Homo sapiens: one gene and its partners. The protein of the gene in region 3 interacts with the protein of the main gene of each other region in a pairwise test. Each region holds a gene or a part of one and is shown on either strand. Other genes may lie near its edges. The genes, in order: BLVRB, TMEM37 and ORM1.

The links.
Region 1: the proteins of ORM1 (region 3) and BLVRB interact in a two-hybrid assay, tested with the Homo sapiens proteins (one large-scale study listed by BioGRID and IntAct).
Region 2: the proteins of ORM1 (region 3) and TMEM37 interact in a two-hybrid assay, tested with the Homo sapiens proteins (one large-scale study listed by BioGRID and IntAct).

Annotation. Positions count from the first base shown.
Region 1 is NC_000019.10:40,463,636-40,467,381, forward strand, and holds the start of BLVRB (flavin reductase (NADPH)), read right to left. Parts: upstream 2,111-3,746; 5' UTR 2,054-2,110; coding exon 1,975-2,053; intron 1-1,974. UniProt on the Homo sapiens protein: Enzyme that can both act as a NAD(P)H-dependent reductase and a S-nitroso-CoA-dependent nitrosyltransferase. Promotes fetal heme degradation during development.
Region 2 is NC_000002.12:119,430,256-119,434,001, forward strand, and holds the start of TMEM37 (voltage-dependent calcium channel gamma-like subunit), read left to right. Parts: upstream 1-1,598; 5' UTR 1,599-1,648; coding exon 1,649-1,669; intron 1,670-1,817; exon of another isoform or gene 1,818-1,995; intron 1,996-3,746. UniProt on the Homo sapiens protein: Thought to stabilize the calcium channel in an inactivated (closed) state. Modulates calcium current when coexpressed with CACNA1G.
Region 3 is NC_000009.12:114,321,500-114,325,245, reverse strand, and holds the start of ORM1 (alpha-1-acid glycoprotein 1 precursor), read right to left. Parts: upstream 2,149-3,746; 5' UTR 2,113-2,148; coding exon 1,999-2,112; intron 1,584-1,998; coding exon 1,441-1,583; intron 1,229-1,440; coding exon 1,158-1,228; intron 457-1,157; coding exon 349-456; intron 198-348; coding exon 94-197; intron 1-93. UniProt on the Homo sapiens protein: Functions as a transport protein in the blood stream. Binds various ligands in the interior of its beta-barrel domain. Also binds synthetic drugs and influences their distribution and availability in the body.

The DNA of each region.
Region 1 (3,746 bases), on a different chromosome or scaffold from region 3:
TGTGTCACCCAGGCTGGAGTGCAGTGGTGCAGTGATGCAATCTTAGCTCACTGCAACCTCCCAGGTTCAAGCGATTCTTGTGCCTCAGCCTCCCAAGTACCTGGAATTACAGGCACGTACCACTGTGCCCAGCTAATTTTTTTTTTTTTGAGACAGAGTTTCACTCTTGTCGCCCAGGCTGGAATGCAGTGGCGTAATCTCGGCTCACCACAACCTCTGCCTCCCGGATTCAAGCTATTCTCCTGCCTCAGTCTGCCAAGTAACTGCGATTACAGGCACCAGCCACCATGCCCGGCTAATTTTTCGTATTTTTAGTAGAGACGGGGTTTCACTATATTGGCCAGGCTGGTCTCGAACTCCTGACCTCGTGATCCACCTGCCTCAGCCTCCCAAAGTGCTGAGATTACAGGCGTGAGCCACCGCACCCAGCCTCTTTTTCTTTCTTTTTATGTATTTTTTTAAATTTGAGAGACAGGGTCTCACCCTGTCACCCAGGCTGGAGTGCAGTGGTGCAAACACAGCTCACTGTAGCCTTGAACTCCTGAGCTCAAGCAATCCTCCCACCTGAGCCTTCTGAGTAGCTGGGACTACAGGCATGCATCACCACGCCCAGCTAATTTATTTTTTTTTTGTATTTTTGTAGAGATGGGGTCTTGCTACGTTGCCCAGGCTAGTCTCAAACTCCTGGCCTCAAGCCATCCTCCCGCCTTGGCCTCCCAAAGTGCTGGGATTATAGGCATGATCCACCGTGCCTGGCCAGCCCTTCCCTTTGCTGAGGGGGACAGCAAAGCTGAGAGCTGGGAAGAGATTTTTCAGAGCCACAGCTCTGAAGCTCCCTAGGCTCCAGTTCTTAACCCTCTGAGTGCAGTCCCAGCTATGACCAGCAGGGTGGGCGAGTGGAATTCGGTGGAATTAGTGGATTTCCAGGTGACTCAGCGCCTCTCAACTTCTCTCTCTTACTTCCTTCTCCATTACTCCCGAATAAATGCTTATCAGCAAACTGGTTTTTACTGAGAGGCCCACAGCTCCCCATTCTCCACAAGTCAAGATCCTCACGTGGTCTCCCTGGGGAAGGGGAGAGTTATGGACCTAGAGAAGAACTTTCAGAGTCCCTCCAAGGGAGACAGCAGAGTGGGGTCCTGTTGGCCTCCACCCTTTTGGGGCACGCAGATAGTCAATATCTTCAGCGTCCCCAAGGCCTGCAAGGGTGGGGCCCCATATCTGGAAGTCCCAGGCCCAGCTGGGAGTTGGTCAAGTCTGGGCTGTGGGGGCAGGGAGTGCTGGGGGATGGTTATCCCCTTTTCTGCCCTCTCTCCTGGGGCAACTCCAAATTTTCAGCCCTCATTGACTTTCCCAGGACTGCTGTCCCCAAGTCTTCACTCATGTCTCTCTGTGACTCCTTCCCATTAGGTACTCGCAGCAACCTGACCCCCCAACTTTTTCAGTTTCCAGCCTGGGGACTTGTGGTGGTTAAGAGCATGAGCTGAGTTCAAATCCCAGTCCTGTCAGTTAACAGCTGTGTGATATTGGGCAAGTCACTCTCTGGGTCTCAGTTTTCTCATCTGTCAAGTAGGGTGATACTAGTTCCCACCCCATTTTGAAAGCTCTCATGTGAAGAGACGACAGAGCAAGCTTGGCTTAGTAAATCCTCTCTGGGAGTGCGAACAACCACCACCACAACCACAATAATGACAACCGCATTGCATAAGAGCCCTGGACTTACACACGACTGTGCCAGTGGAGTCCTCCCGGGGCTCCCGGGGCCAATTCCTCTCTGGCTTGGACTCACATAAACTTGGATCTCACATCTTTCCCCATTTCTGCCCCCGTGGCCACTTGCTTTGGCCCCTGAGTCCTCATACACCTGGCTGGGGCGCTCATGGCCCCAATCAGCCTCGGCCCGACCCCATGGTGCCCCTTCCTAAAGTTCTGCCCGTCTGTCCCGTGACATGCCCCGCCCGCCCCGGCTCATGCCTGCTTGCACCGCCTGCGCCAGGGTGGTGAGCCCGGTCTGGCCAGTGGCGCCGAAGATCGCGATCTTCTTGACGGCCATCGTACGGGATCGTGGGGGTGCAAGGCCTCAGAGTCTCGGCACGCGCGGGAACCCACTGGCTGCTGGGCGGTGCTCTCTGCCCTACTCAAGCCAGGAACAACGGGGCGGAGCTGGCTCGAAGGGCCACGCCTCAGACTCTCCGCCCGCGGCTCAGGTCAAGGGGCGGGGCCTAACGCGGATGGGCGGGGCAGGCGTCAGCTTGCATTCGCTCACCGTCCAGCACCGCCCTCTCTGCGCGCCACTTAGACTGGAAGGCGGGGCCACAGAAGGCCACGCCTCCACATAGCAACAAATAGAGTGGACGGAGCCGAGATAACTTGTCACTCAGCGCCCTGCCTCCGCGCTCCACCTCCCGGAGAGGGGCGGGGCCAGGCGAGCCTCACCCACGGCCTCTCGTAGCTCACGCCCCCTCTCCCGGAGCCTGGAGCGGATCTGGGGCGCACTCTAAGCCCCAGGGCCTCCCAGAACCAGCAAGGGGAGAAAGTTAGGAGGACAGAGTGTGTGTGTGCACTTGGATGTAAGACACTGTGTCACGGCGTACCTATGCACTTATATGACCCTGTGTGACTCAGTGACCCGGAGGGCAAGCAGGACTGTGGGTGACACCTTGTGTCATCCTCTGAGTGTGATCCCGTGTTACAGTGTGACTACACGTGCGTGACACCACGTGTGGCAGGCATTGATTCTGTTCTTTTGTGACCTTGTGGTGACACCGTGGGTGACACTGCGTCAGCCTGTACGATAGGGTGTGGGACGTGTGAGGTGTGCTACATGGAAGCGTGAGACTAATTAGACTGTGACAGTGTGTGACACCACATGTCTCGTGTAAGGATGTGTGACACCGGGACCCCATTCGAGTGTGTGGCTGTGGGTGTCTGTGTTGAGCTGCTCATTGTGACCCCCTGTGACTATGATGTGTGAGGTGCGGCGGTGCAGCATGTGCGGGGCGACTGCTATGAAGGTTCGAGTGTGTAGAGTGTGTGACACTGTGGCTGTGAAGCTGTGCGTGATGTGTGGGCCTATGACACTGTTTGTGACTGCCGGGGAGTGTGCGGCTGTGTGTGACAGGTGCATTTGTGTGTGACGCCGCGTGGGCGGTGGTTACCCTATTGGATTTGTGTGGTGGTGGGTGACACCGTTCCAGTGTGGACGCCGCGTGTGACGGCGTGAGGGTGTGACCCCGTGAGACCCCACAGGAGGGAGTGACGGCGCGCAAGCGCGTGGATGCGGGGGTGAGTTTGTGCGCCGAGGCCCCCGCGAGTATGGCAGCGTGGCGAGCGTGACCCCGTGGGAGTGTGCAGCGCGTGACGCCGCCGTGCCCTCGCGAGTGCAGCCGTGCACCCCACGCCGCGGCCGGGTGTGACTGCGCGTGGGCCTCGGGCGGCGGGGCGCGGGGACCGCGGGCGGGAGGGGGTCCCGGGGGCGCGCTGAGCGCGGCGGCGGCGCGAGAGAGGGAGGCGCGGCGGCGCATGCGGATCTGGCTGAGCCGCGGGCCGGCGGGGCCGAGCTGAGCCGGGCTGGGCCGGGCCGGGCCGGGCCGGGCAGCGGACGCCGACAGGGAGGGCGGTCGGTCGCGGCGAGCAGCGGAGACAGCGACGCTGGCGGCCGCGGGCCCAGGTGAGCTGCTAGGGGGGCCGACAGCCCCTCCCCCAAGTATGTCCCCACCTGGCGAGCATCCCTCCTCCGCGCGCAC
Region 2 (3,746 bases), on a different chromosome or scaffold from region 3:
TGGCCCCCAGGCCAGCAGCACCAACATCACTTGAGGCCACTCAGCCAGAAACTCTGCAGTGGGGCCTCGCAATCTGTTTTAACAAACCTTCCAGGTGACTCTGGTGCAGAATGGTGGCAAGAACTCAAACCTGGACTAGGCCTGCTGGGTAAGTGGAGTCCCAGCTCTCCAGTGGACTCAATGTGGGTGGCCTGGGCCAAGCCTTCCTGTGCCTGGGCCATTTCTCCGTTTGTCAAGCTCCAGGACTGGGGTAAAGGATTTGACAAGGTCTGTTGGGCAGGGATGGAATCAGATGAATATCTAAGTGGAAGATATACAGACAATTGTAACTACCCCTCTTTCTCACATGGCTCTAAAGGGGAAAACAGATGAGTGCAGTTGCTTTGTCTTTGGGTAAAGTCACCAGGAGCTGCCTGCCTGAGTGAACCAGACAATTTAATGTGTGCCATTTAGTGAGGGGCCTTGTTTTACCACCACATTTGAGGATGGGGGGAGGGAAGCCTTTCTGTTGGAATTTGTGGCCCTTGGACACTCCTCCCACCTCCACCCTTTTTGGCGGTAAAAGCTTTTAGGTGCTGCCTCTTTAAGAACTCAGATCCGGCCGGATGCGGTGGCTCATGCCTGTAATCCTAGCACTTTGGAAGGCCGAGATCGGTGGATCACCTGAGGTCAGGAGTTCGAGACCAGCCTGACCAAAATGGTGAAACCCCCGTCTCTGCTAAAAAATACAAAAATTAGCAGGGCTTGATGGGGCGCGCTTGTAATCCCAGCTACTCGGGAGGCTGAGGCAGGAGAATCGCTTGAACGGGTTTGAACCCAGGAGGCGAAGGTTGCAGTGAGCCGTGATCGCGTCATTGCACTCCAGCCTGGGCCACAAGCGCTAGACAACGTCCAGAAAAAAAAAAAGAGAGACCTCAGTTCCCATCGAGGTGGAGAAAAAATAACCACATTTGTTTGGCATATTTGCATTTTTAATAGTCCCTGAGGAGTTCAGGAGGAAACAGGGTTTTACATCCCCTTTTAGGGACGCAAGTAGGATTGCCCCAAAAAGTTCCACTCCGTTCACACTCAGCGAGGGCCCGGCAAGAGCCCCACCTTTCACATTCATTATTTCCCTTACTAACCGAGGCTCCGAGACGCTAAACAAGCAGCCCAAGGTCACACCGCAGAGTGAGGGCAGCAGAGCCTCTGCGCCTGCCTCCTCCCTTCGGACCCTGCCGCGTTCCCAGAGGCTGGACTCAGCAAGCTGGAACAGGAATCGAACCCTCAGGCCCTCGTCGCCGTCCCAGCCCTCGAGGAATCTGCGCCCCAGGCGAAGCTGTCCTCGGAGGTTCGGGAGCGTCGGAGTGACTTCCCGATCCTTTCCCCTGGGACCCGAGGGATCCCTCCCCCCAAGTGCCGGGTCCTCCCCGCGGCTCCCCAGGGGCTCCTCCGGCCGCCCTCGCTGACTCAGCGTAATCCGAGCCGCGGAGGGCGGCGGGGTTGGCGGAGCCCGCCCGGGGTTAATCGCCGAGCTTTGAACGCCCCCTCCCGCCCCGCCCGCCTCCAGCAGCCGCCCCGCCCCTGCGGAGAAGTCCCGGGCTGGCGCCGGCGGCCACAGCGGAGCAGCTGGAGCGATCGAGGCTGCAGCGCGGCCGCCGGGCGCAGCATGACTGCCGTCGGCGTGCAGGTAGCCGGCGCCTGGCGGGGCGCTGACCCGGGGTGCTGCCCCGCCGTGGGAGGTTGGGGGTGGGAGGACGGAGGGAGGGGCGTACCCACCGCGAGCGCCGGCGTCGGGCTGGGGGTGCGAGCGCCCCCCGTGCCCGCCCCCTGTTGCAAACCTGGGTCCGGAGGAGGCTGGGCGGGGAGCAACCTCGGGGGGCCTGCCTGCCTCACATAGCTGCTCCCGAGGCGCGGACTCCGGCTGCTTCTGCTCGCGGCCTTGCAAGCACCCGAGGCTCCCAAACTTCATTTGGAAAGATTTTTCTTCTCTTTGGTGTCACCAGTGACTTACTGGTCAGTTTACCATAAGGGTCCCCCTTTGTGAGAAATGAGGCGCGTCTGGGGTGGAGGGACAGAATCGACTTGCAAAGTGAGGCTTATGTAACAGAGGATGCGTCTCTTGGGAAGTTAGACCTTTCTGGGGGTGGAGGTTAGGAAGACCGTCTCCCTCCCCAAAGCTGCGTTTGGGGTGCTGGGCTGGGGGTGGACTTGCTGAGTCGCGCGGACACCTCAGGGAAAGGCTCTGGCGAGGGAAGAAGCCCGTGTCTCCGAAGATTTGGCTTCTCCTTAGCGTAGTGCACGATGTTTATGTTGGCTAAGAACCTACACATTCCTACCCGCTCCCTCGGGCCTGCTGCTCCCCAAAGGGAAGTCAGTGGGTGGCGGTACCGCTGCCCAGCGGGCGAACTTCCTTTCCGCGCAACTCGCCCGCTGCAGAGTCTATCCGCTGGACTGTCTCCAGGATTAGAGAGGCCCGTTGACTTCGTGTACAAACGCTCAGCCACAACACTGACCTAGTAGACACCGTTCTGCCCATTGTATAGATGAGGTAACCGAGACTCAGAAGTAAGGTGCCCTCCGTGGCTGGCCAAGGAACAGAATCAAGATTCAAACCCAGGGCTTTCTGGCTCCAAATCCCACTGGCTCCTCCTGCCTTTACCTAACGGGAGAAACCCCACCCACAGGACACCCCCAAAACCGCTTCTATAGCCAGGACCTAGGCACCTGGGCGAAGCCGGGCATGGGGCGCAGGGAATTCCTCCCCTTTGTTCTGGGGGATGTCTGGAATCCCGGCCAGGCAGCATGGTGGGACAGACCAGGTGCGGTCCCTCCCCTCTAGGAGCTTACAGCCCATGTAGGGAGAGAGACTTGGAAACAGGGCATGGGGGAGCGAATGCTAAATTAAGAGGTGCAAAAGTTGCCAGACGGGGAAGAGGAGGAAGCCTGGTAGCAAGGTGGGAGCTCAGCTGGGGAGGCCACAGGCTCCAGGTGAAGGGCGGGTGCTCCGGCCGCTTCGGGATGATAACTCTTCATCCCCACAACCATGACTTGCCAGGGGGCAAACACAGGTAGGAAGCAAGTTCTGGGTCATGCAGGCAGCGGTGGGCCAGGCTGCAGCTGAGAGGAGCAGAGGCAGGCCGGCTCATCAGGAGGCTGTGAACTTCCAGGATGTTGACGATGGTGATGGCCTCACCTGGGTAGGGGCAGAGTGGGTGATGAGGGGGAGCAAATATGGGAGACATGTTGGGGATGTGCGGAATGAGTTGGGAGGAGCTTAATTTGTCTACCTGGGGGTGCTTTGGTTAAGGGGAACACATGAGGCCCTGGGTTATAGGAGGAAGACCATGACATTGGACTCAGTAGCCCAGTAGTGTCAAGTGACCCTATTCTATAGGTCACTAGAAATCATGCAAGGTTACAGATGAAAAAGGAAAATGCTTACATTTTTAGCAGAGCAGTTAAGCTCCAGAGAGATTTAAGTGATTGCCTAAAGGTACCCTGCAGGGGTCCTCTAGGTCAGGGGCAGGACTTGACCTCCCCGCTCCCTTCTTTTCCACTGCACACTTGTCCAGCTGCCCTCCAGTAGCCGTTTCAGGCCCTGCATCACTGAAAGCTGGTGGAGATGCCGGGTGGTTAGGAATGAAGACTCTATATGTGTTATTATTGTTATTAATATTAATAGCTACCATGAGTTGGGAGCGGCCCGTGTACCATGCATCTTTATATACAGGATCTCATTTGATTCCTGGGAGTTTCAGTGGTGG
Region 3 (3,746 bases):
AGCCTTGCCTGGCAGCTCTCCTGCTCTGGGCCTCTGGGGCTGCCCAAGTTGGGCCATGGACAAGGTGGGCACTGTCCAATCCCTTGCGTTTACCTTTTTCCAATCGGTGTACACGACATCTGACTTGGGAATGCGCAAGCAGTCGAGAGCTTCGTAGAACTCTCCCAGTTGCTCCTTGGTCGTCTCTGGCTTGTCAGCTGCAGGGGGAGCAAGGAGACTGACTGGGGACATGGTGGGGCCCGGCGGGAGGCCAGGGAGGGCTGGGGTTCTAGGGGCCAGCCCAGGGGTGGGTGAATGGGGGGTGAGGCCTGAGAGGGGCATGAGTTTGGGGCTGCTAAGCATGCCTACCATAGACAGACAGCCCCCAGTTCTTCTCATCGTTCACGTCAAAAGCAAGCATGTAGGTCTTGGTGTCCCTGAGGATCAGCAAGTGAGCGAAATGCTCTTGGCCTCCCACTGGAAGAGAAAAGGAGCCTCTGGGTGAGAACATGGGATGGCACAATGGTGTCTGTCTTACAGGTGAGGAGGCCTAGGTGTGTCAGTGGCCACACAGCCCATCAGTGAAGGCCCAGGGCTCCTTTGGGCCACCGTGTGCCCAGCCCCTGCTGCATGCCCAGCTCCACGCCAAGCACTTTCTGTACATGAGATCTCAGGAGCCTCACACAGACCGTGGCTGTCAGGGCCTTTCTCCGTTTTACAGATGAGGAAAATGAGGCCCAGAGAGGAGGCTCGGGATGCTAAATGGTGTCAGTTCAGCTCCATCAGCTCCCTGCCATGTGCCACCTCTGCGGTGATGGGGGACATAGTTGAAGGTACCACCTCTCCAACATACAGGCTTCTACCATTGGTTTGCAAAGGATCTTAAAGAGGGCATGAGAGAGAGGCAGATCTGAAGCCAGCCTGGAGTTCCAATTCTAGTTCTAATTATAAGCTGTGTGACCTTGGGGAAACTATTTGAGGTCTCTGTTCTTCTTTTTCCTCCTCTAATTCTCTCAGTGTCCTCTTAGAGTTGTTTCTGAGCACATCGTTAGAGCTCAAAAATGTTAGTGGTTATTTCTCTGTGCCCAAAGCCTCCAGGGCTCTACATCCAGCCCCCACCTTATGCTGGCCTGCCCTGTTCCCACAGTGAACCCTCCTGCCTGAGGGCTGGCCCTCACCGTATCTGGAGATGGTCCCATTTTCCCGCTGGACATTCAGGTAGGTGGTGTTATAGATGCACTGGTCCTGTCTAAAGCCAAACAGAAGGCGGAAGGAAAACAGGAAGATTATTGAGAAGTGGCCAATCGCCCATCACAGTCCTGGGGCAAGAGTCTGGTGGAGATTAAAGCCAGCCCTCCCGGTTCCACCCATGGGAAGGCCAAGGCCAGGAAGAAGGAGGGACTTGCTCAGGTCTTCTGGCCAGAAGCTGAGATGGGGGTGCATTGGAATGGGGGCTCTCACCGGGTCTGGTACTCTCTGAGAAAGATCGTGTCCTCTGTCTTGTTGGGGGTGAAGTAAAAGAAGGTTGCTTGGATCTCCTGAACCGACTTATTGTACTCCTCGTTTCGAAAGGCCGATGCGATATAAAACCACTTGCCAGTGATCTGGGGAGAAGGTGGGAGCTGGTGATGGGGGCTTGATGCTGAATCTTTGACTGTCAGCTGGGAGGAGACTCAGGCAGATCTCTCCCTGATTTTGCAGATGGGGAGATGAGGCCCCTGGTGGGCAGTGCGCATGCAGGAGCTCACCCTGAGGATCAGTCATTGCCCCCCAGGCAGCCCCTCCAGGCCCAGCACAGAACCGTCCTCCGTGAAGGACTCTGCAGTGAGGCTTCTGTGTTTGGAGGCAGGGGGTGCCTCCAGAGTCCCCTGGGCTGGTGAGAATTTCACCCTGGGGACCCAGAAGAGAAAAAGGCAGAGCCGGGAGTGGGGGTCCGACCACAGCCAGCAGGGAAAGGGAAGCCCAGAGAAGGGAGGCAGCTGCCCATGTGCTCAGGACAGGGCTAGCCCAGGCACTCACCCGGTCCAGGGTGGCGTTGGTGATGGGCACCGGTACTAGGTTGGCACACAATGGGATCTGGGCTTCCAGCAGAGGTAGGAGGCTCAGGACTGTAAGAACCCAGGACAGCGCCATACTGAGACCAGGAGGCACGTGGAGCCAGGCAGTGCTGGTGGCTGCAGGGTGCAGTCACCTTTATAATAAACTATGGGCGGTCACTTGGAGCCCAGCAAAAGTTTACTCTGTGTCTGTGACACAATCCTGCCAGCACTTGGGAAATGCCTCGCACAAAACCTCCCCCAAAGGCCAGCTCGGAGCACCGCCTCCAAACCCAGGTCTAATTTGAGTTCCTCACATGGAGAGGTTACAAAAGCCCTAGAGTATGGCTGCCCAAGGCCAAGGTGGGTGCGGGGCTGCAGCAACATTAGTAAACGTGTGAGTCCACAGATTTCCTAGAGAGGCCTCCCGCAGAGGAATCTCATGTCTTCATTCAATTCCTATCCCTCTGAGTGCCAAGACTTACTTCAGTGGGACCCAGCCACAAACCTAATGATGAAGCCACCTTTGAGGGTCCCCAGGCTGGCATGGGATGTATGTTGTGGCGGGGAGAGTTGGGGTGAAGGATGCCGGGGAAGACAAACATAGATTCAGTTCCACTGAGTGTGGCAACAGCTGTGTCAGAGCCAAAGTTCATTGGGGCCCCAACCCAGCCCTGGACGCAGGCACATTTCCAAAAAGGGACATCCAAGTTGAATGTCTATTTCCAGTAAATATACTACTCGAAGCATCTCCCAACATCTCAAACAGGAAACTGTCTCCCTGTTTTCCCCCATTCCCTGCCATCTGAGCAGGCAGCTTGCTTCTCTTTCACCAATACGCCCCCAATCCTGGAGCAGTGCCCAGCACTTCAAGGGCACTCGGTATATTCTGTGGAATGAGTGATTCCGTGGCCCATTTGTGTTCCTACCTCACGGGTCAAGTCTTTATTTGTATGAATAAATACTTTCAGAAAGTATTCATTTTTTTTTTTTTTTGATACGGAGTTTCACTCCCGTCCCCCAGGCTGGAGTGCAATGGCTCAATCTCGGCTCACTGCAACCTGTGCCTCCTGGGTTCAAGCGATTCTCCTGCCTCAGCCTCCTGAGTCGCTGGGATTACTGGTGCCCTCCACAACGCCCAGCTAATTTTTTTTGTTGTTGTTATTTTCAGTAGAGATGGGGTTTCTCCATGTTGGCCAGGCTGGTCTGGAACTCCCGACCTCAGGTGACTCACCCGTCTCGGCCTCCCAAAGTGCTGGGATTACTCAGAAAGTATTCTTACGGTATGATTATAATTTTGCATTCTTATTCATTTCATTCTGAATAACTTTCATATTTCAGTGTAGTTTGTAGTTAAAAGCTTAATGGACCCAAGATGGGAGAGTCACCTGAGTCCTGGAGTTCAAGACTAGCCTGGGCAACATAGTGAGACCCTATCTTTACACAAAAATATTTAAAAATTAGCCAGGTCGGCCAGGCGCGGTGGCTCACGCCTGTAATCCCAGCACTTTGGGAGGCTGAGGCGGGCGGATCATGAGGTCAAGAGATGGAGACCATCCTGGCTAACATGGTGAAACCCCATCTCTACTAAAAATACAAAAACAAAATTAGCTGGGCGTGGTGGCAGGCGCCTGTAGTCCCAGCTACTTGGGAGGCTGAGATGGGAGAATGGCGTGAACCTGGGAGGCAGAGCTTGCAGTGAGCTGAGATGGCGCCACTGCACTCCAGCCT